Linked DNA regions of Homo sapiens: region 2 is linked to region 1. The links come from fine-mapping of genetic effects on gene expression. A gene starts in region 1. The other region holds a variant in brackets. All regions are shown on one strand. Distances are between the middles of the regions. Region 1 holds the start of IL1RAPL1 (interleukin 1 receptor accessory protein like 1). Region 2 overlaps IL1RAPL1 (interleukin 1 receptor accessory protein like 1).

What was found. PIP is the estimated chance that this variant, and not a neighbour inherited with it, causes the effect.
Region 2: its variant is the best candidate, but not a certain one, in a credible set for the expression of IL1RAPL1 in tibial nerve (GTEx, PIP 0.74).

Annotation. Positions count from the first base shown.
Region 1 is chrX:28,574,612-28,590,484 of GRCh38, forward strand. IL1RAPL1 (interleukin 1 receptor accessory protein like 1) reads left to right here and starts at 12,835. Exons shown (of 11, transcript NM_014271.4): 1 at 12,835-13,436.
Region 2 is chrX:28,842,705-28,850,704 of GRCh38, forward strand. The region is part of intron 2 of IL1RAPL1 (interleukin 1 receptor accessory protein like 1); the gene reads left to right. Among named protein-coding and RNA genes, the nearest start is that of IL1RAPL1, 260 kb to the left of the region's middle. RefSeq lists an enhancer at 1,007-1,559. The variant T/C (reference allele first, on the strand shown) is at 4,753.

The sequences.
Region 1 (15,873 bases):
CACGAGCCTGTAATCCCAGCTGCTTGGGAGGCAGAGGCAGGAGACTCCCTTGAACCTGGGAGGCGGAGGTTGCAGTGAGCTGAGATCACACCACTACACTCCAGCCTGGGTAACAGAGCCAGACTCCGTCTCAAAAAAAAAAAAAAAAGAAAGTTTGAAGTGAAAGTATAGTAAAAACAAGACCTATCAGGAATACAATAATCAAAATAATATTGATAACTATGTTATATTAAATTAAATACACTTTAAGACAAAAAATATTTGGGATGGAGAGAGCCATGACTTAAAAAGATTGAATTTATCAAGGAAGTATAGCAATTTTAAACAAGTAGACACCAGTAAAATAGCCTCAAAATATATGCAGCAAAAAATTGTTATTTCTATAATGATAAATGTGCTATCATAGTGGGAAATTTCAACACATCACTGTTATTTACAGGTTACACAATAAACAAATCAGTAAAGACACAGAAGAAAAATAAGTAAAACAGGCCAGGCACAGTGGCTTATGCCTGTAATCCCAGCATTTTGGGAGGCCAAGGCGGGCAGAGTTCAAAATCAGCCTGGCCAATATGGTGAAACCCTGTCTATACTAAAAATACAAAAATTAGCCAGGTGTGGTGGCATGCACCTGTAGTCCCAGCTACTTGGGAGGCTGAAGCAGAAGAATCACTTGAACCCGGGAGGCGGAGGTTGCAGTGAGCTGAGATCGCGCCACTGCACTCCAGCCGGGATGACATTTTAAGACTATGTCTTAAAAGAAAAAAAAAATTAAAACAACACATTTAACAAGCAACACAATTAAGCTTGATTGTTAATTGGGGGAGGGGGGTATGATTATGCATGCATTAGGAAATATACAATTGTCTCATGCACATGTGAGACGTTTTAGAAAAGTTGATCATATATAATCTATTAAATCCTCAAAAATTTGAGATCTTACAATATCTAACCATAATAAAATTATGCTAGAAGATAATTTAAAAAATAAAAATATCCCTGATCATATGGAAATTTAAAACACACACACATACACACACATACACAACACTATGTAACTCTTAGGTTAAAGAAAAACATCATAGTGAAATTTAACAATGACAAACACAGAATTATAAAGAAACACTAGATATTAGGAACTGTGAGATATGGCAAAAATGCTTTAAGGAAGATTTACAGCCACAAGCCTCATATTAAAAAAGAAGAAATTCTTAAAATTAATGATTTAAATATTCATCTTAAGATGATAGAGTATGATTGACAGAATAAATCAAAGAAAGTAGAAGTCAACAAATATCAAAAGCATAGCAGAAATAAAAATACGAGACAAAAGTATAATTGGAAAGTCAACAAAATGTATCACGATTAGTATGCAGGATATAATTGCAGACAAAGAAAATACTGATATGTGCCACCTGAGGGTGAGCCTTGGCGTTCATAAACAAATTTGTGGGGTCAATTTCCTCAGTTCTTCCTCCCTGAAATCTGTCTGGTATGTTTCAATTCTCTGCCTTCACCCTTTTTGGTTCCCTAGTCAGAAACTTGGGGCTCTAATTACCCCGATACTGGCAGGCTCTGTTGTGGACTGCTGTGATGAGATTCATGTTCTGGCTCAAGTGGAGGAAGACGGGCAATAAAAAAAACAAAACAAAATACGACAATCAACCAGGAAAACAAAGAGAGTTTGTCCTACCCTCTTGAAACTGCAAGCTGTATAGAACAGAGAAGACTCCTCCCTCAGAGTTTTCATTCTTACTGGTTCCAGTAACTGCAGCTGCCATCTCCACCAACACCACAAGATTGCCTGGAAACTGAGGCACAACAGAATGGAGAAATAAAGAGAAAGGTGGGAGAGAGTTCTCCACTCTCTCTTAGCATTAGGAGTTTCCTTTCCCAGTCCTTGAGCCAGGGGAAGATGGTCTCTCCTGGAGCTTTCTCTTTCTGTGCCACAGAGCTCATTTCCAACTTACCACTTGTTTTGACTTTAGATTGGGAGATGTCAAAGGGAAAATAAAAAGGTCAACTTAGTACAAATTCACAAAATTCACTTCAAATTCTGGTGTTCTGTCCTGATCTACCTACTACTATTTACTTTTCAGAGTTTTCAAATAGTTGCTTCATACATTCTGTGCAGGTTTTAAAGTTGTGTTCAACAGGAAAAGAAAGAATAAAGTGTACTTACTGCATTTTATCCAGAATTGGAGCCGATACTATTTTATGAAGTTAAAAAAATTGAAATGTAAAATATTTATATTCTTTAGGGATATCATAGATGCAACAAAGTTATATGAAAAAGAAGTCAAACAAAAAATGCACGTGAGATTCAGGATAATGGTTTCTCTAGATGAAGGAAGGCAGGTGTATAGGTTGGCAGGGGTACCATTCCATTTGTTTGATATAGATCATTATTAAGATACTTGCTTTTGTTTTGGGTGGCGCTTTCTCAAGCATTCATAACCTCTTGAAAACTAAATAAATACATAAATAAAACTAGGCTGCACATAGACCAATGAAAAAGACTATTAATCAAGAATAGTGATCGGTACAATTTTGTACACCTGAATACAAAATAATAAATCAATAGAGGAAAAAATAGAAGAAAAATGTTTTCTTCTTGCCTTTGAGAGGTTAGAGGTGAGAGGTTATAAATCAGGGTCATTTAAGCTCTGTTGTACCAACAAATGAACCTGAAATCTCAGTCACTTAGTATAATGAATGTTTGTTTCCTAGTCACACAAAGCCCAAGTCTGATGCTACTGGCTACATAACTCTCCTTTTAGCAATGACTTAGGAATTAGGGTTCATCTATCACATGACTCCATCATCTTGAAGCCCTTTCCTTCAAGCCATACATAAGAAGAAAATAAGCATGAGAATAAAGACAGAGGGGAGATCTCTCTGGAGATTTTAGGAATCAGGTCCAGAAGACGTATGTAACTCATCTGTCCACAATCCACTGTGGACCCACCTAGATGTAAAAGGACCCGGCAACATAGTGTTTTGAGTGCTTAAGAAGGAAATTGTTATGCTCGGGCATGGTGGCTCATGCCTGTAATCCCAGAACTTTGGGAGGCCAAGGTGGGCAGATCACGAGGTCAAGAGATCGAGAGTATCCTGGCCAACATGGTGAAACCGAGTCTCTACTAAAAATAAAAAATTAGCTGGGCGTGGTGGCACGCACCTGTAGTCCCAGCTACTGGGGAGGCTGAGGCAGGAGAATCACTTGAACCAGGGAGGCGGAGGTTGCAGTGAGCTGAGATCCCACCACTGCACTCCAGCCTGGCGACAGAGCGAGACTCTGTCTCAAAAAAAAAAAAAAAAAAAAAGAAGGAAATTTTAAAAGTTTGGTGAACACATAGTATTGTCTCTGTCACAAGACACTTTTACCATAATGATATTCAATATTCAAGGTTTAAGTTACTGCCTCTATTCTGCTATGCTATAATCTCCCTTTTGTACATAGTATCTGCTATACAATAATCACATTCTAGTATAATATTCCTCTAATATCTGATAAACACACACAAATTGAATATAGATATCTAGTTATTAAACATCATCCATGATATCTCTCTGGTCTCCTGTATGATTTACTAAAAGAGTTGTTTTCCTCAGTGTAAAAATTAGTTCAGAAAGCCATACTGGTATTTACATAACATTAACACATCCTTCATCATACTATTCTTAGGTGTTTTAAAAGTTGAAATATTAATGTTTTTGCCCTGAAAGCCATAATTTCATCACATTTCTCTCATTCAACAGAAACATAGTAATTCACTTAGAGCTCCTATAGGAAAAAGATAAACAGCAAAGAGATACCCCAAATCGAAACTAAGAGACTGCTGGAGAAAATAGTGCACTAGAAATTTTGCTGAATTGCTACTGACTCTTTAGTTTACAGCTTGATGTACTAGCAATATCAAGACAAAAAGGCAACATACAAGCCAAAGACAAAGTTGATGATTTTAGCTAAATGTAACATAGAGAAAATAATCAAATGCTAAGCGTGGCAGATAAGGGTAGAAATTAAGAAAAGGTACAATTTCCAAGTTTGCCACTGTGAGACATTGAACAAGCCTTGATTTCCTCATCTGTAAATTGGCCATAACAACAGTACTGATTTATTTTGAAGATTAAATGAATTAGCAGGTATAAGATGCCTCCAGTGGTGCCTGGCACATAATAAGTACTGAATAAATGCTAGCTATTATCATTTCACAAAAGAATTTAACAAAGCTTTGATTGACACTAAAAAGTCAAAGACATGATTATCTTCATTATCCAGTTTCTTTTCTATGTTAAATTATACTAAATTAATTACAATTCCAAAAGAAAACCCCATTTATTTCCTGAAAACATTTTTTAAAATAAACAAATCCTGCCTTTTCATATCCATTTCACAGGAAGACCTTTGTGTTCAAATATGATACAATATTTAACTTTCACAAACATCTGCCTACACTTTAGTTTTTATTATTTTTAATAATCTATAATTAATGTAGGAGTTAGATGTTTTTCTTCTGATATTAAAACAAACTTCTGTTTTTTTTTTGGAGACAGAAATTGCTCTGTCACCCAGGCTGGAGTGCAATGGCGCCATCTCGGCTCACTGCAACCTCCACCTCCCGGGTTCAAGCGATTCTCCTGCCTCAGTCTCCTGAGTAGCTGGGACTACAGGTGCGTGCGACCACACCTGGCTAATTTTTGTATTTTTAGTAGAGACAGGGTTTCACTATGTTGGCCAAGCTAGTCTCGAACTCCTGACCTCGTGATCCGCCCACCTTGGCCTCCCAAAGTGCTGGGATTACAGACATAAGCCACCGCGCTCGGCCTAAAATAAACTTCTTTTTGGTAAAACTTTGTTATTAAAATATGAAATATATGCACAAGTGCATACATTATAAGCATACAGGTCAGTGAATTTTCACAGTATGAATATACCCAATTAACGAACACCAGGATCAGAAAAAACCAGAACATTATAGCATCCCTGAAACTCTTTTTATGCTTCCTTCTAGTCATTACTTCCACCAAGGATAACTCCTATCCTTATGTGTTGAAGTGTAGATTTGGTTAGTTTTGTCCTTTCTATAAATGCAGTCTTACAGTATGTACTCTTCTGTGTCTGGTTTATTTTGCTCAACATTTTGTTTGTGAGATTCAATAATATTGTTGTGGATAACTGTAGCTTGTTAGTTCTTATTCCTTTATGGCAGCCAACAGTCTAGATATACCACAGTTTATTCATCCATTTTACTCCTGATGAGCATTTGGGTAGTTTCCAGTTTGCAACTTTTTTGGAATAAAACTGCTCTGAACTTTCTAATACGTGTTTTTGGTGAACATATGTCTGAATTTGTGTTGAGTATATACCTAAGAATGGGATTGCTGACATCATAGGTTATGCATATGTTTAGATTTAATAGGCACTGCTGAAAAGTCTTCCAAGGTTGTTGAAACAATTTTATCTTTCACCATGAGTAGACGTGAGTTCCAGTTGCTTCAACTCTTCACCCACATTTTCCGTTGCCCATGATTTCATTTTAAACATTTTGGGGAATGTGTCATGATGTTGCACTATGCTTTAAATTTATATCACCCTTATGTCTAATTAAGTCACTTACCTTTTGATGCATTCATTTGCCATTTGGCTATCCTCCTTTGTAATGTGAGTAAAATAGACTTCTTCAATTGGTAAATATATGTTTCAGTATTTTGTTCATTATTATTATAACTAGCTGGTTAGACAAAGCAGATTCACCTACTTGGCTTGTACTGAACAAAGTTAGACTGGTCCTCAGATGAACTGTCAGTAATACCCATGAGTTGTAGTCAGACAAGGTTATTCTAACCCCAAACACTACCAGCTTATTAAAAAAAAAAAGAAAAGAAGAAGCTATCCTGAATGTCTAGTTCCCTTCAACTCTGTAGCCAGTATAACAAAAATAAAAACAAAACACAAAACAAAAATAAAATGGCGATGACTCCTTACACCACTATAATATTCTCTGATCAGAAAAGAAAAGAAATGAAAACAAATTTTAAAAGCTAAAATGAAACAAAGCACTCCTCTCTCAAACACATACTATGTTCTAGGTACTCTATGGAGTATACATACTACAACATCCCCAGGAGGAGGTAATCCCATTAACTTCATTTTTTTACAGGAGGACATTCAGACTCAGAAAAGGTAAGGAATTTTCTCAAGGCCATATGGTGATAGGATTCAAACCAGATCATATTATATCAGATATCTCCATTATGTCCTCAACTTATCTTTTTAAATAAAAGGCTGACAGGCGATATGGCTGAGTCATGCCAGAAAAGAACTCCTAAAACTTCCTAGCTATGTAAGCTTGAATAACTATGTCACTTTCCTGGGTGAGACTCAATTTCCTCTGTCTAAAATAAAGAGATTATTCAAGGTTGTCTCTAGAGCCCCCTTCAAAAACTGATTCTATGATTTTAAACACTTTTGAGTTCTACTACCAGAACCAATGTTATTTCCTTCTAGGTACAAGAAAATTGGCCTACTTAGATGTTGCTCTTTATTACTGGTCTTCACTCTTTTGTGATTTTTATCTTGCTTTATCGATAAACCTCAAGGTCACCGAAATAACACCTTCTCTGTTCAGTCTTCCCTGATTCTTTTAGGCTGAATTCAGATCTCTCCTAGAGTACTTACCACAGCATGTATTACATGTGCTGTTTGTGGGTCACTCTATTGCTAGACATGAGCTCCTTAAAGACAAGGACTGTGCCTTACACATCCCTAGAGCCTCAACACCCTGCACTGTCTGTCACATAGCATGTAATTAATAAATGATAGACAAATGAATAGGTGAACAAATATTACTATCTCCAGTCACATAGGCTGAATATTTGAAAGCCAGAAGTGGGACCTCTATGATTATTTCTAGTTACCCTCTATCTTTCATTCCCAGAAACCAAGCAAGAGTGTGACTATAAGCACAGTCCCAGCCTCAGCTCTCCACAGGAGGGAGAGCTTGGAGTATAAATTGCACCACAGAGTTTTTTCAAACTATAGTAAAAAGAGCCAGGGTTTCATACTTCCACATCAGTCAGTTCTTGGGTAAGGTGGAAGAGGGTTTCAAATTCCAGGTACTTCCTGTTCTCATCACAGGCATGACACACAGTGCTAGTAGCCCAAGAGCAATTGTTAAAGAGGGTATGGGTGCTGGCCTTTAGAAGCAAACTACAGAGAAGAGGGTGATGGCTGTGAGTACACAGAGCTAGTCTGGGCTGAACTTTCACAGCCCCTGCCTTACCTTCTTTTCCCAATCTATTTTCCTCTGAAAAATATTATTAATCTAGGTAATTTGAGTGATACTGAAATTTGATTCCATATTTTATACTTGGAAACATTAGCTCACACTGTTCTCTTCCTTCATCAAACCTATTTTATACGCTGTAATTACCGTGAAATGCCCTGAATCATTTCAGAGGAAGTGATCTTCCATATATTTACATCAATACCGTTTCATTTATTTTCCCAAACCCAGAAGAGTATGAATTCTGCCCTACCACCCCCAAAGCATTCAATGCAGGAAATATTATTATTTTACCTGCTTCAACCACAATATCTGAAGCTATTTTTTTGTGCGTTCAATTTGAAGTAGAAGATATGCCACAGGTTCTGTGTCCTGGATATCATGAAGTCTGATATAAATACATATAAAAAGTGCAAGTGGTCTATTTCAGCAGAACTCTATGCAGAGATCAGAAATTCACCAGGAAATAGGTCTTTGTAACTCCCAAGTTCTGGTTAGATTTTAATAAAATGTAAGCTTTAGGAGAGCAGGAAACTGAACTAGATATATCCATAATGATACCCTCAGTACTTTGAACCATGCCTGGCACATAGTGGGTTTCCAGGGCACATTTCCTGAATCAATTACAATTTTAATATTTCACCCACCTGAAATATTGTTCTGCGGTTTTATTTAAACTGGCTGTCAGCATGGAATGACTTCTGCATTCTCTCCTGGAAGTGGGTGAATTTCCATGGTGAGCCATTCCTCTATATACAGTTTGCAAATCATTTTGGGAACCTTCCAAATGAAAGGCACTGTATAAATATACCCTCCCACCAGCAGCCAGCCGGCTTTCCACCGGGGATGCATTTGCATCGCTTATGTACACAGTGTTTCATTTGGGGCATTGCTTTTATTTTTATGACCATAAAAGAAATATTCACAGTATGAACAATAATGTAAACTGCATTCAAGAAGATATATATTTATATATTTTTATGATTCAAAACTTAGAAATCTGAAAGAAAAGCAGGCATGGCATTTTTCTTTCCTGTTGCTGTTTGCTTTTTCATAGCATTCTTTATTATTCCTGAACTTTATGGTGGAATTTTGCTGAAATGCTCAAGTCTTTGTCTGTACCTCATTTGAGAATATGTGGTGGTGGGTTCAAATGAATATTGCTGGCAAAAGGCCTGAAAATGAAGAGTACTTGATTTTGCATTTATTCAAGGCTATAATAATAGTTTGCTTTAGCGCAGCTTTTTGTGGATGGAGGCTTCTTTAAGGAGAGAAAGAGAAAAAGAAGCAACCTCAGGTATAAAATACCTTCTAAGTAACTTAGCATGATAATCGAAACTTTCACAGATGGAAGAGGCTTTGAAGAGACGTATTTTAGCCTTCAAAACAAAAGGGGGGCTGATTTCATAGAGCATTGTGGGGAGCTAGACTTTGAATTCATATCATATGGAAAATGTTTAGTGAACTTTGAAATAAACTGCCAACAGAATTAAATCAAAACCTCTGTAAATTATGTATTTATCTACATAGAATCATCTGCACACAAAAATGAACTGAATTATAACTTCTTAATTTATACATTTCCATAATTAAATTTAAACTGAATAAAATAACCCAATTCAGACATATTTCCTAACCTTAAGGATATTCTAGCCTTAAGGATTTTATTAAAAAGAGAAGCTACTCTGAATATTCAGAGTAATTTTATATAAAAAGTATCTAAAAAGGTAGATTAAATAAAACTCTTGTTCACTTCACTGAGTGGCTGGCAGCTGAGTAGGCTCTCTTTCTCTCTTTAAAGAAGCCTCCATCCACAAAAAGCTGCGCTAAAGCAAACTATTATTATAGCCTTCAATGACGTGAAATGTGAAGAATTAAATTTCAACTACCAATAGTTAAAGACAGAATCAATAAGAACTTGAGTTCATTTCAGGTGTTGATCATTCTCTTTCGTAAATACCAAATTTGATATTTTCTCACGTTTTACTACTAAAACAATGAAAGTGATTTTTGAAACCTTAACTATAGGATAGTAATATTAGGAAATAGCTCACTCAGTTTATTTTGGGGTTTGTAAAGTGGGGTTATATTCTCCATCTCCCAAGTCAGAATATTTCTGTAGCTAACCTTTAATTTCATACTCCCATTAATACCAACCTTGTTTCATTAAAATGAATCTAATGTACAGTATCTTGACATTCTTCTTTATTACTAGAAAATAAAACAGCAGTTTCTTCAACTGAGAAAAGCTAGAAGCATGGAATTGATCTGCAGCCAGTTTTTACTACAAACCCCATAATGCTTTGCATTATAGCCTACAATCCCCATACTGCAGTGCCAAACCTACAGTTAACCATCATATTACTGGAAAGAAAAAGAACAGAATATTTGAGAACTATGTAGCATGCAAGGATTCTACTTGAATAGTAAATTATCAATTTGTTTCCAGTATTTTGTGATTTGCTTGCCTTTTCCTTTAGTAAAAAAGGCATATTTATGGATATGCACTCTATTTCCTCATCCTCAATATAATGTCGCATATTCTCAAATGATATATCAAGGTATATACTTTCCATGTCAAAGACTCTTTTTTAAAAATATCCATCATTGGGTTGTGTAGTTTTCCACCCTCCTTTGGAGGGAGGTCAGCTTTATTCAGATTTTAAAATAAAAATCACAATACATTGTTGAATGCTCTAAACATCTGCAAATGAGAATTCAGTGAAGTAATTAAAATTCTTAATTAGATGCACCTTGCAGCTGCCGTTAGTCTTAATTGGCAATAATGCAGCTACATTTTGTTCTGACACATATCTTCAGAAGAGTTAGAGAACTGAAGGGAGGCAAGAGGAAAATGTTCCCACACAGTTCAAGATAGTTCGCACAAAGAGGATCCCATGGCAACAAACAGCGAGGCCCACAGTTGGCTCTGTAGGATCCAGGAATAGACAATGCTTCACCTCAGATTCAAACAAACACTTCCTTTCCTGGATCTGATCATTTCATTTGAAATGAAAGCACTTTAAATCATCTCTTGAAATAGGATTGAAGTGGTCAAATGTTCACCTGTGTCCTCGAGATGCTTTTCAAAGCTTCTAGATGCTCTCTGCAGCCCATGTCAAGGTAATAATCATAACTCCTTCTCTGTGTACAGTAACAAACTGACTTGCAGAACATTTCAAAGAGAGGACGTGATTTTTGTACCATATGGAGCTGGACAGCACGTTGGCAACTGGTTAATTTCAACCTGTCATTTTATAGACAAGGAAACTGAGGCCAAGAGAAATTAAAGTGATTCCCTTGGGTAATTATGGCTACTTAGGAGTAGAATTTAGACTCAAATCTAGGATTGGAGCCTACGGTCAAGACGTTTACTTTTAAATTTTGCTTGAAGCAATTACATTTACACTTGTTACTTGTGCCCCCCTCCAGGTCTGCTTGAGGTCTATTCACATTCAACTGGGTCAACTAGAGGACTGTGATGGAAGGTATAGAAAATCTAGATCACTCACGTTGAAAGGAGGGGAATATATTTCCTCTTCACTTCTAATCTTCAGTTTAGGCTGAATTATAGCATGTGGGGAAGAAGCAGAGGGAAGAAAAACACTGGCACAGAAGATGTGAACATGGGTGAGTTAGCTTCAAAGAAACCTTGTAAGACTTGCCTACCGACTTTAACCACATTTTCCCTCTGCTTAGGTTGGAAATTTCAGTGTACTGCTCCTTTTTTCGAAATACAGTTTTACCTCCCTGTCTAGTCTCCCTGCCTGCTGTTATTCTCACCTGCGCGCTTAGTTTGTATTCGTTTAGCTCACATTTTACCTAATTTTTAAAGTGTTTTCTTTATCTTGATGCGTGTTTTACTCCCCAAATTAAAACAGTTCTGAAGGGCCAAGGCTACTTTACCTATTTATTCTATTTTTGGTTTATCCGGTTAAGCCTGCCATTACAAAAGCTTGTGGGATACATTACAAAATGGGTTAAGGTTTTTAAGTACATGGGCTGCCGGTGTTGAATGGGAAAGGTTGCAGGGTGGGGAGAGGGAGAGAAGTAACTAGAAAAGCGGCTCGCTGCCTTTTAATCATCCAGCCTACTCAGCTGCCGGAAACTGACACTGTTGCTGCAGTGTAAACATTAACATTTTTTAAGGGTCTTGCTACTCCAAATGTGGTCCACAGCCCAGCAACATTATTATGGGCCACGGGCGAGCTTATTAGAAACGCAGGGTCTCAGGCCTCACTCCAGATGTACCGAATCCGAATCTGCATTTTAACAAGACACCCAGGTGACGGTGTGTACATCAAAGTTTGAGAATCACGGAATCACATGTGAGTGTTATACTATCCCAATGTAAATGGTCAAGGACCTTAAATTGAGCAAATAACCTAATGTATTTACCCGTACCTACTTTGACCCTCTTTCTTCATCACAAATTCATCTCAGAAACCAGCAGCGAACTCTTTTGCAGGGAACTCAATTACGCGGTGGATGGGAGGAGGATCCTCTTCAATACCCTCCCCTCCGCTCCTCCTCCCACTCCCCACCCCCACCCCGCACTCCCAGAGAGCCTTCCACAGGCACCCTTCTCCCAAGCCCCACTCACTTAGGGAAGATTTTGCTCCTCCCCCAAACTGAAAGCGCGGCTGTGAGGAGGGTTACTGCTTGAAGGACTCACAGTTTGCATATCAATACAGACAGAGGCACTTTTGCAAAACTGCCCTTTAGAAACAATTATCATCTTAGCACCTGAGGTTTGTTTGGAGCAGCCCCCGCACCCCTTCTCTCTTGTAATCCATCTTAAAGTGATACGGAGAATGGGGGCGTTGGGGAGACAGTGATGGGGGTGGGAGGGTCGCGCGCAATAATAAATCTGCTTCAAAGAGAAGAGATGAAAAGGAGGTTATCAAGAGTGTGTCGGCTTAGGCATCACTCTCTGTATCTTTCTGCTTCCTAGAGAAATGGAACCATAATTCTAAGGTGGCTAAGGCAAGACTGTATAAGCATCCAAATTTGCCAGTCTGCTTTTGCCTGGAAGAACAGATTTCCGTTATTTGAAGCCTCCCAGGGTCCTTTCCAAAAGATTCCCAGGCTACCTTCCTTCCACTTCGGTCTTCTGAGAACTCAAACTCGCAAAGCGGTGGCTGTCTGTGGATTGGCTAGTACTAAAATATCCATTGGGTGGCAGTAATACTATCCTCTTTATGACTTGCAGCAAACCAGAGAATGCATTCAATCAAATGAACCGATCTTGTAGAAACACTGGAATCATTTATGCGTTGCAGTTTCTCTTTCTTGTTTTCGCTCCTTCTTCCCTGGGATATTTTGAGTGGATTGTGGCTATTAATCAAGATCTCGTGCTATTCGTGTTTTGCTTGTGGTTTTCGCTCAGGATTAGCATCATTCAAGGCAAACGCAAAGCTGCTTTTCCCACCCCCCCCCCCGACTCTTTTTTGAAAAATCATTTTTGGGGGCTGCTGAGGAGAGCTAGGACCCAGGAGACACCTTCCCAAACAGCAGGGGTTGTGTGCTTTCACATAGCAGTACTGTACAAGGAAAACCCCGTCGGATCTGTTATTGCGGGATACTTGTGAAATATACATAGGATTCTTTCTTATGGCTGCATCCCGGATCTGGAAATTTTACTTGGGGACCAGGAGGATTTGAAAGGCTGCATGTACTCAGAAGATTTGCAAGCAACACTCCAATTCTTGTCATAGAGCTCGCAGACTTCTCACTTATCGGCTTTTTTCCTTCCTTATTTTTTAAGAATTATTCTTATTTTCCCCTCTCTTTTTCTGCTCTCTCCTCTCTCAGTCTCTCCTTTTCTATCTGCCTCTTCATTTTTCTCCTAGTCTGTTTTTTTTTTTCCTGCTCTGCACCTGGATTGTATCTTCAGCAAACAATCGGGCACTTTGAGAACTAACTGGAGACAGTCTTGTAGGGAAGATCTGTATGGAATTATCTGCTTTTATGGTGAACTTGGCATTTGTGAATGGGAATCTTGTTCACAATATTAATTGCTAGCAAAAACAAGAAAAAGAACACAGGAGTAAAACGTGGATTTTTCTGAATACGCATTGTGATGACCAGCAATTACCTTACCGACTAATATCCAGAGGAGAATAATTTGGAAGACTGTTGTGGGTAAGGTCATTTTATATATGCAAACCCATCAGTGGCATGAGCAAACTTGGGCATTTGTAATGGGAATGGGTGACTTGAATGATTGCTGCATCGCATTGATGGCTGTGATGTGGCCGTTATTGGCACTGAATGGAATAACTGCAGTTGGGTGTGTTGATATGTGTGTGTGTGTGTGTGTGTGTGTGTGTGTGTGTGTGTGTATGTGTGTGTGCGTGTGTGTGTATATGTATGTGTGCCCGTATTCTGAGTGCAATTGAAAATCAAAGTATCACTCTCTCCCCCAATTATTTTGATATGGAAGAGTGTCTTGAATTAATTCTGGGTAGACACTCTTTGTTTGAATGTAATATTTGTGGCCCCTGCGTTCTGGAAGGGGTAGCAGCAGTAAAAGAAACACTTAGTGAAGAGCCCCATTTAAAATGAAACGAGCTACTCTCTATGCATTAAAAGAAATATGTTTTCAACTCAGTGCAGCATTCTGCTGCATTTCACAGCCGCAATGGGACCAGGGACATCCCACTTGTCAAGTTCTTAAACTTTAAGGTGATAATCATCGTTAATTGTTCTCTAGGTTGTGGTTACTGGAGATTATTAAGCGCCCTGGGCTACTTTTTTATCTACTGGATTATCACTCAGAGTGAAAAAAGGAAAAGAAAAGAAAAAGCTAAAAATGATGGCTAACATAGAGAAGAATAAGGCAACATTATCTTAAATATCACCACAGTGCTTTCTTTCTCAAGTTCAATTGCCCAATAATATAATTATTTACCCAATATCCTAAATAGCTGAAGCTGAGACCCACGTGCAGGGGAGTCGAAGGTCTGAAAGCAGAGACCGTCCTTTTATTGCAATGCAGCCAGCTTGGGAAATGCAGGCAATTAATTACATACTTCCCCTAACCTTAAGTTGAAGATGTGTCCTGTCTGCTACATCTATTTTACCCTTTCGGTAAAAAGTTAGAGACTAGAACACTAAGGATGTTTAAGCATATTCTGCCTGGGAAATGGGATAAAGAAATCAATATTGATGACGTGGTTCAGTGCACTGTACTGCAATGCTAAAGTTCCATATTCAGTGCCTGTGATGAGAGAGTGGAGCATTTACATATGTTATAAATCTCACCTGGTAGATTGATCCAAAGGGGAGGGGAGAAGATATGTGGATATGTAGGAAGATGGATGGAAGTCGTGCATAATCGGTGATTATGTAACTTCATTACATCAGCGAGTTTCAGTCAACGATAGTGAGATGAGATGATTGTATAGAGAGAGGCTCCATCACCCTGTTAACTTTTGAAGGCTTGTAACAGCTAACAGAGGAGGAGGGCAGAGAGAGATTAGCTCCAAGGGTCCTGTAAACCTTGATCTCTATGGCAAATTTTGCATGAGTTTTCTCATAGTGAGTTTCGGAGGGACATCAGATCATATAAGCTTTAGGGCTGGACAGGACCAATTTTAGCCACACCCGTGGAGAGTCAAAATGAGTCTGCGATGTTTCAGAAGTGCCCCATTGAGTAACTGGGACTGATGATTCCAGCCAAGGTCATAGTTCTTTACCCTAGGATTGAAATATATGACCCCAACTGAATGGAAAGTTAAATTCATTGAAATGATGACTGTGAACGGAATGAATATTTAGGGTCCTTTCTTGCATTTTTCCTGGTAGAGCTTGATGCAGATTTCAGCCTGGTGGTTCCCTCATAAAAATGATGATTGCTTCCACAGCGTGTCAGAAATGACTGTTTTGTCCCTTTATCTTAACCATGACAATCTCTTTCTGGGCCATTTTAACCTTCTGGGAAAAGAGAAGTAAAAGCATTCAAAGGTAACAGTACCCTGTTAAATTACAAATTAAATGGCACTGGATTCATTATTAACACAAATCCCAGAAAAAAAGAGCAATCCATGTTCAAGTTTCACTTATTGAATGGCTTAAAAGACAGGTTGCAGCTGCCAAAGACTTTTACCATCATATGAGATAAATGTACTGTGCTCACTGTGCAGAGAAGGGAATACTGCAGAATAAAATGTCATTTTCCCTCATGTTTTATCTGGAGTTGTGATTTTTTTTAAAGAAGATACACATCAGGTCCTTTTGGCCTTCTACTGTTTTAGGATCTGTTTTCTCCTCAATAGATCACATATTCACAAAAAATGAAACTTCTGAAATCCTAACCCTGTTCAGTTGAATCACCTTATTATCTAGTTGTGCTATTTCCTATTTCTCTTTACATTTATTTTACAAAGAGGGCTAAACGACTTTTCTGTCAGGGAGATGAGATGATTTTTTTCTGTTTTTCTTTTATTTCTCATATTCCATTTCCTTCCAGTCCTAAGGAGTAAGATGCAGAATCTAGACACCCTCTAAGTAACTTTGAAAAGATTTGCTCACCCTGAGTCAGAATGGTGGGATTGGGGAATGAAATTCTAAGGTCTGA
Region 2 (8,000 bases), 260 kb after region 1:
CTTAATAAAAGCTTGGCAGTATGAATTGATAGAAAATGAGTAAGTCTATTTATTTGGTGGTAATGAAGATTACTGGGATAAGTTTCCAAAGCAAGTTATAAAATATTGTTCCATTAAACTTTTAAAATGGGATTTGTTTTCCTGCTTTTTGCCTCATACAGAATAAGTATGGCTCTGTTTCAAGATTCTGGTGTGTTCATGATGACCTCTCAAGATCAATTCTGAATCACAGGGAGAAAACGTTGAAATGATAAAGACATGGATACTAGAAATGCAAGCAAGTTATAGACCATTTTATTTACCCATTTTTTTTTTTAGCTCAAGCAATTTCGTGTCTTATATTTATGGATAAAGTTGAAATAAAATTTCCCTTTTTTTCTGTTAAATATTAAGAGTCTGGGGATTAGTTATGCAGCATCTATTTATTTATTTCTGTCTTATAAAAATTATCTTAAAGGGCTTGGCTTAATTTCTATACCATAAAGAAAAAATGTGTAAGATAATCCCTCGCTATCGGGATCATTTTCTTATATAATTAATGAGCTGAACGTAAAAGATAGGTGAATCTACAAATTTATTTATTTTCTGTCTTATAAAAATTGTCTTAAAGGGCTTGGCTTAATTTCTATACCATAAAGAAAAAATGTGTAAGATAATCCCTAGCTAGTCGGGATCATTTTCTCATATAATTAATGAGCTGAACGTAAAAGATAGGTGAATCTACAAAGAAAATGCCCCAGGTACCATCCATTAAAGCATGTTGCTGCTATATGTGCAAGATGTCCAGGGTATGGCTTCCATAATTATAAACAATTTACTATGTCTCAATTATTATTTCAATTGTTAATTCCCTTGTCTCTGGATTGATGCTTTAGTGCATCATTTATTGTGGATATTTTGGATAAAATGAATCTTTGGATTTTGTAAAAACAATATTTCAAATTTGTATGCATCTTTGAAGTCTAAATAGCATGTTATACAAATTGAAAATTGACTGTAAGAGTTGCTACAGATTCAAATTTTATGTAGTTTATTTTTTATATCTTGATTTGTGAAGAAACAAAAACCTTAACTTTGCTTGGTGGCAAGAACAAGGGGATTAGAACATGAACACACAGGATATTCAGAGCAGTGCGTTTGTAAGGCATGCCTTATTTGAGTTTCAGGTGCTTGCTCATTAAGATGAAATTTTTGTCAGGCAGTGTGTATTGGGAGTTTGCTACTTGAAAATCAATAGTCTGCATTCTCTGCCTTATTGTTTCAATAGCCTCTTAACTGATCTCCCTGCTTTCGCTATTGAGCTCCCTGCTGCCTAGCTCTTTGAGCTCATCTCCTAACACTTCCCCTCTCTCCAGCCTTAGTAAATGCCCCCACCCACATCCATTTGTGATATCTTTTCATTTTCTCCCACCAAGAGGTGGAGTTTAAGCTCCCCCTTTTTGAATGGCATATGACCTTGGAAATTCATATGGTCGGAAATTCAAATTTCCCACCAAATTCCCACCAAAGTTCCCAAAAAAGGTGGGAACGGAACGTAAACCCCCACCAAATTTGAATTTGAAATTCAAATTTGGTGGGGGTTTACGTTCCCACCTTTTGAATGCCATGTGACCTTGGTAATTTGCCTTGACAAATACAATGTGGTAAGATTGACATCATGCCATTTCTAGGTTTAGACCTTAGGAGACCTTGAATGCTTCCATTTATTCTCTTGGAACCCTGCTATCAACAGATGATGAAAGACTTAACGTTTTACTCACCCCATTCGACAGGTGGCCAATCATCAGACATGAGCGAGGCCATTGTAGAACAAGAAATCCCCTAATCTTGGCTAGGTTTCCTCATAGGTCTGGGTTAGCTGTTGTGGGTACTCATGTCTTACTTTAAAATATGGTTATTTAATACCTCTGTATTGTTATTCCTCTAAGAAGATGTAATAAGTCCTCTGGAAGATATGACATTAATGGACTTCGCTGAAGTTTTCTGTGACTCTTTATGTCTCTTGACATAAAAGACAAGAATCTCTTTAATAGAAACAAAGTATTTGTCTCTATATTTTTATGGTTGAAAATGTGACTTAAACTAGCTACAATGAGGAAAGAACATGTTACTTGATTGAGATATGGTGTTTCCTTTAGAAAAGAGAAATGCAGTTCTTATTGATATTGTCTTACTGGCATTGTGTACAGTTTGATAGCATTCAGTATTGAGTCTTTTGTGTCACAGTTCTTGAAAAAGCTTTGATTCTTGTTTTAAGATTACCTATATCTTGAGTGATTTTGAAAGCAAGTGCCAAGAAAAGATGTTCTATTGATGTATACATGACAGGTGAAATATCACACCTTTTCAGAAGGCTTCTCTGGTGAATTTAATTCCAAAGACAACCAGAGTGGAGGTGGAAGTAAAAGATACGATTTGTCATGTTATTATAAGTGCATTACAAAAGTAAAGAATCATAGCCCATGCAGGAGGAATGATGTAGGGTCTTGTTTATTAGACATTTTTCCCCAGGGTTTACATAGCTTAGGGATTATGCAAACAAAAACAAAATATATATAGTCCAAGATAAACAAGCCATATTGAAATTGATATGTATGTATGGTATTAAATATTGTTAGATTTTTCTGAAATTCTCATTTTTTATATATTCAACACACATTACTTTAATTGTACGTATTAAAAAAATTTATCAAAATAATCAATGATATAAAATCTCTCCTTATATGATTTAAAATAATCTAGCTATGTCAGATTAAAGGAAACTATTCTGTACCTCTATATCTGGTCAACTCAGGATTTAACCAATAGGGCCCAGGGTATTTTTAGTCTAAATAATATACATTTATGTTTAAATCATTGATTTGAATCTAATGGCAGCTTGTTGAAACATCAACTGAGTGCTTGACTTTCACAGACAAGTAACACATTTTTGACTGTAGCATTTCATCTGAACAATACAAGGTCAATCCTCATATAAAGTATAAATAAATCAGGGGATTCTATTGTATACTTATAACACATATTCATATATTAGAATTTTATGAAGTTAAAAAGATTTTATTTTCTTAAAGATTATTTTTAGAGCAGTTTCAGGTTCCCAACAAAGTTGAGAAGAAGGTACAGGGATTTATTTTACACCCTCTACCCCTACATATGCATAGCCTCTCTCATTATCAACATCCCCCACCAAAGTGGTGCCTTTGTTACAATGGATGAGCTTATTGTGTTGACACATCATTATCACCTAAAGTCCATAGTTTTCACTAGAATTCACTCTTGGTGTTATACATTCTATGCTTTGGGACAAATGCATCCACCATTATAGTATCATATGTATTTTCCCTGACCTAAAAATCCTCTTTAGTTCTCCTATTCATCTTTCCATCTGCCTAGCCCCTAGCAAATACTGATATTTTCCTGTCTCCACAGTTGTGCCTTTTCCAGAATGTCATATAGTTGGAATCACTCAGTATGTAACCTTTTCACATTGGCTTCTGTAACTTAGTGATATGCATTTAAGTTTCCTCCATGACTTTTTATGACTTGATAGCTGATTTATTTTTAGCACTCAATAATATTCTATTGTCGGGATGTACCCAGGTTTATTTATGTGTTCACCTACTGAAAGACATATTGGTTGCATCTGAGTTTTTGCAATTATGAATAAAGGTGCTATAAATATTCACGGGCGGGTTTTTATGTCAAAATACAGTTCCAACTCCTTTGGGTAAATTCCGAGGAGTGTGACTACTGAGTCATATGGTAAGAGCATGTTCAGTTTTGTAAGAAACTGCCAAACTGTCTTTTAGTGTGGCTGTACTATTTTGCATTCCAAACTACAGTGAATAAAAGTTCCTGTTGCTCCGTATTCTTGCCAGCATTTTGTTGTCAGTGTTCTGAATTTTGGCTATTCTAATAGGTGTGTAGTGATATCTCATTGTTGTTGAAGATTTCATTTTTAGTCACAAAAATCATATAGCATTGGAAGGAATGTTAGATAGCATCTGGTTAAAATCACCACTTAATGTATAAACTTACTCTGCAATATTTCGTTTTAAGCAATCATCTCATCCAGAATCCTTTTAAGACCATCTATGGAATGCTTCTTGTCATGAGATGCAGAAAAGCTGTATGCTACCAAACATTAGAAGGCCCCAGGGCTCAGTCCTTGGACATCTTTGCTTTGTGCACTTACTGCCTTGGAGATCTCTTCCAGTATCATGGCTTTAAATACCATTTTTATGCTGGCAATTCCCAAATTTTCATCACCAACCTGGACCTCTCCCCTGAACTCCAGACACATGTATCAATCTGCTTAGTTGACATCTTTATTTTTTGTCTAAATGGGTATGTCACACTTAGCGACCCCAAACAAATTCCTTACTTTTTCTCCCACACCTGACCCTTCACATTCTTCCTCAGTAGTAACTTTATCCTTTCAGATGATCATGCCATAACCTTCATTCCTTTTAGCTCTTCTTTTTCATGCACTCCAGTCTATCAGCAAATTCTTTCAACTCTTCCTTGAAAAGAAGAGTTGAATGGACTCAAAATTTGACTAATTCTCACCACACCTGCTGCATCTTAGCCCAGTGCCCCTTGTCTCTCACCTGTTTTATTTCAATAGTCTTGTTACTGTTTTCTCTGCTTTCTCCCTTGCTCCCTTTAACTGTTTTATTCTGAATATGGCAGCCAGCGTGATTCCTTCACTTACCAATTGTATGATATTCTTCTCTATTCAGCCTCTACTTA[T/C]AATGGTCTTTTATCTCTCTCAGAATAAAATCCCAAGTCCCCACAGTTGCTCACAAGGTTCTCATGCATAAACATCTGGCTCCCCAATGCCTCTTAGTATATCCATTAGTGTTTTCCCCTTGTTTGCTCGACTCCAGGGCACAAGGCTCCTCTGTTACATCAGACACACCCCCTCCCACGTCAGTGCCTTGCACTTGCTGTTCCTTTTGCCTGGGATGCTTTCCACACAGCTATCTCATGAGTCATTCCCGCTCCCCTGCCTGTCACAGTCAGCTCCTTCAGGTCTTTTCTCAAACACCTCTGCTTAGTGAGTCCTTCTCTAGCCACCTGATTAAACTTGCAACCTACTTCTTAACTCTTTTCACCAATGACTTTTTATATATATTTAAATAATTTCTTATTGTCTGTCTCCCTTCACTTCAGATGTCAGCTCCATGAGGAGAGAGTTTTGTCTGTTTTGTTCACTATTATATCCTGCATGCCTACAAAAGGCCCTGCTTTATATACACCATAGAATACTATGCAGCCATAAAAAGAACGAGTTCACGTCCTTTGCAGGGACTTGGATGAAGCTGGAAACCATCATTCTCAGCAAACTAACACATAAACAGAAAACCAAACACTGCATGTTCTCACTCATAAATGGGAGTTGAACAATGAGAACACATGGACACAGGGAGGGGAACATCACACACTGGGACCTGTCGGGGATGGGGGGAAAGGGGAGGGAGAGCATTAGGACAAATACCTAATGCATGCAGGGCTTAAAACCTAGATGACAGGTTGGTAGATGCAGCAAGCCACCATGGCACATGTATACCTATGTAACAAACCTGCACGTTCTGCACATGTATCCCAGAACTTAAAGTAAAATAAATAAATAAATAAAATGAAATAAAAATTAAGTCCCCTGCTTAGTAAGTATTGATTGACAGAATGAATTATTTTTTATACATTCTAAATATTAGGGAATTCTGTACTTGTAGGGTTTTTTTTTTCTCAACTGTGTATTTTAAAGGAGAGAAAGCAATCAACAACTCCTTTGTTTTTAATTTGGGTTTTCTATATTTAACAGATTTATCATTTTATTTTTTCCCTCAGTGAACTTGTTTATTAAAAAGAAATCTGTCACTAGCCAAAAGCTGTCTACCTTTTAGCTACTCGGCAATATTGGTGCATAATCATGGGTTCTTGGGATGCTTCCAACTTTGGTTTGACCTTTACAGATTAGCTCTGAATTAGGGACCACTGCTGGGTGAGAAGTAAGGTGTAGGAAGAAGACAGATATTCCAACACAATCTGGAATAATTAGAAGGACGAAGACAACAAGGAAAGGAGACTATTTTCAGTGCTTCAGGCCTCATTTTTATAACTGCTGACACAAGCCTGCTATTAAAATAGTCACATTTCCTCAAATATTGGACTTTCAGATGCAAACGGCGCAGTCAAATAGTTCTGTTAACATGACCTAATTTTCAGAGCTAGGTGTTATATGTGCTTTCATTCTGAGTCTGTAAACCTTTAGACCTCTGATTCTTTCAGCCCTAAGCTGATAGTATTATTGTCTAAAACCTAGCAATTTTCTCTGTAAACTTTATCATTTTGCATTTTATAAAATCCTTTATACTTACCTATGTAGAGCTTGGAGTTTACTATCCTAGGGAGAAGGAGTACAAGGCAATTAAAAAAAAAAAAAGCCCCGTATTCAAAGCAGAATGTTTCAAAAAGACTCTACTTCTGAAAAGGGGAAAAAATCACCATTGTTCTGTTGGCTGAATGTGTTGGAAGTATCTCAAAGAAGTACAATTGAATTAATTATATTTTCATCTCTGTGTACCCATTCAAGTCTGAGAACATGCACTTCACTGTAGTTTTACCTCCTTCTGGATTACACGAGAAGCTGCAAGATTATCAAGATGTCAGACATTCCTATTGGGATAACATGACATCTTTACTAAGGACTTCTGTGGGTCTGATGTTCTTCTTCCTAGAAAATCATATGAAAGATACTTTAAAAGTGCCATGTACCCACTTGAGCTTATTTTTTAATTCTGATTTTTAAAAATATTTTACTACTTAAAGTGACATTTAAAAAGCATATTAAACAACGATATAAGACTCTGACTTCACAAATTAGTTTTTCTAAGAACATCTAATTAGACAACTTGGATTGTGTCTTACCAGGGTGCATAGATGTAACCAACCTAAGCCAGCCCTTTTGACAATCTGCAGTATCAAAGCAAAATGGAACTCTCGTCTTATACTTACATTAGTACATAGGTGGTCTTTCTTGCTCATCTTTATCCCCTTTTTAAAAACCATAGCATAGTGAGTAACACATCTTATATACTGCGTATTAGACACATTTCTGTTTATCTTTGTCCCTGTCTTATGAATCTTCATTTTGATTATCTGAGCAGTGTTGCTGATTTGCTCTACTGGCTTTATTCAACTAATGCCAGTACTCCCTTATTGGACTAAGGTCTTAAAACTACCGTGTGCTTATGTGTACTAAAGGTAGTTACTGTCTGCAAGTGAGGAATACATTTGATGGAACTGATTAATTAGGGTGATTTTCTGTTTTTGTGGTCAATTGAAATCTTTTGTTAATTTTAGCTTTGCTAATTTTAGCTGAATTTTCTACAGTAATTTTTATTTATCCATAAGTATTTGATTTCTGCAAATTGGAAGTAAAATCACTCATGTTTGTTTACCTAGTTGGAGCTCAGATTTTTATTAAAATATTGTTAAAATTTTATTAAAATATGCCTATAAAAGCATAGTGACTGGCTGAATGCATTGTGATGCTCACGAAAATGCCCTCTCACATCTCCTACCGCAAGAAACACAACTGAGTACTGGGCTCGAGATGCTGCTTTCTGGATCCATCACAGCTTTGGTGCTGAGGCCCCACTCTTCTTAGGAGCTGCTTCTAGTCAGTGACAGAGTGCAGCAGCAGGGGTACTAAAACGGGCCCATTGCTGAGGGATGTGGGAACTCCACTGATGGCAATGTGAGCTCAAGAATCCCCATGAACTTTACACTGCACTACAGTGTAAAGCTTGTTTTCCTTCCTCCCTCTCTTCCCCCTATTCTTCAAAGAGGTTAGACCCACATCGAGGTGAGATCGGTCTCTTGGCCTCCTCTGGCTTCCTCCTGTTTTCTTTCATAGGTGTTCCTCTCTGACCCTGCCTCTGATAACTCTTGGGTTTGTCTAATCTTATCTTTGTGTCTGCTTTTCCAGGAGG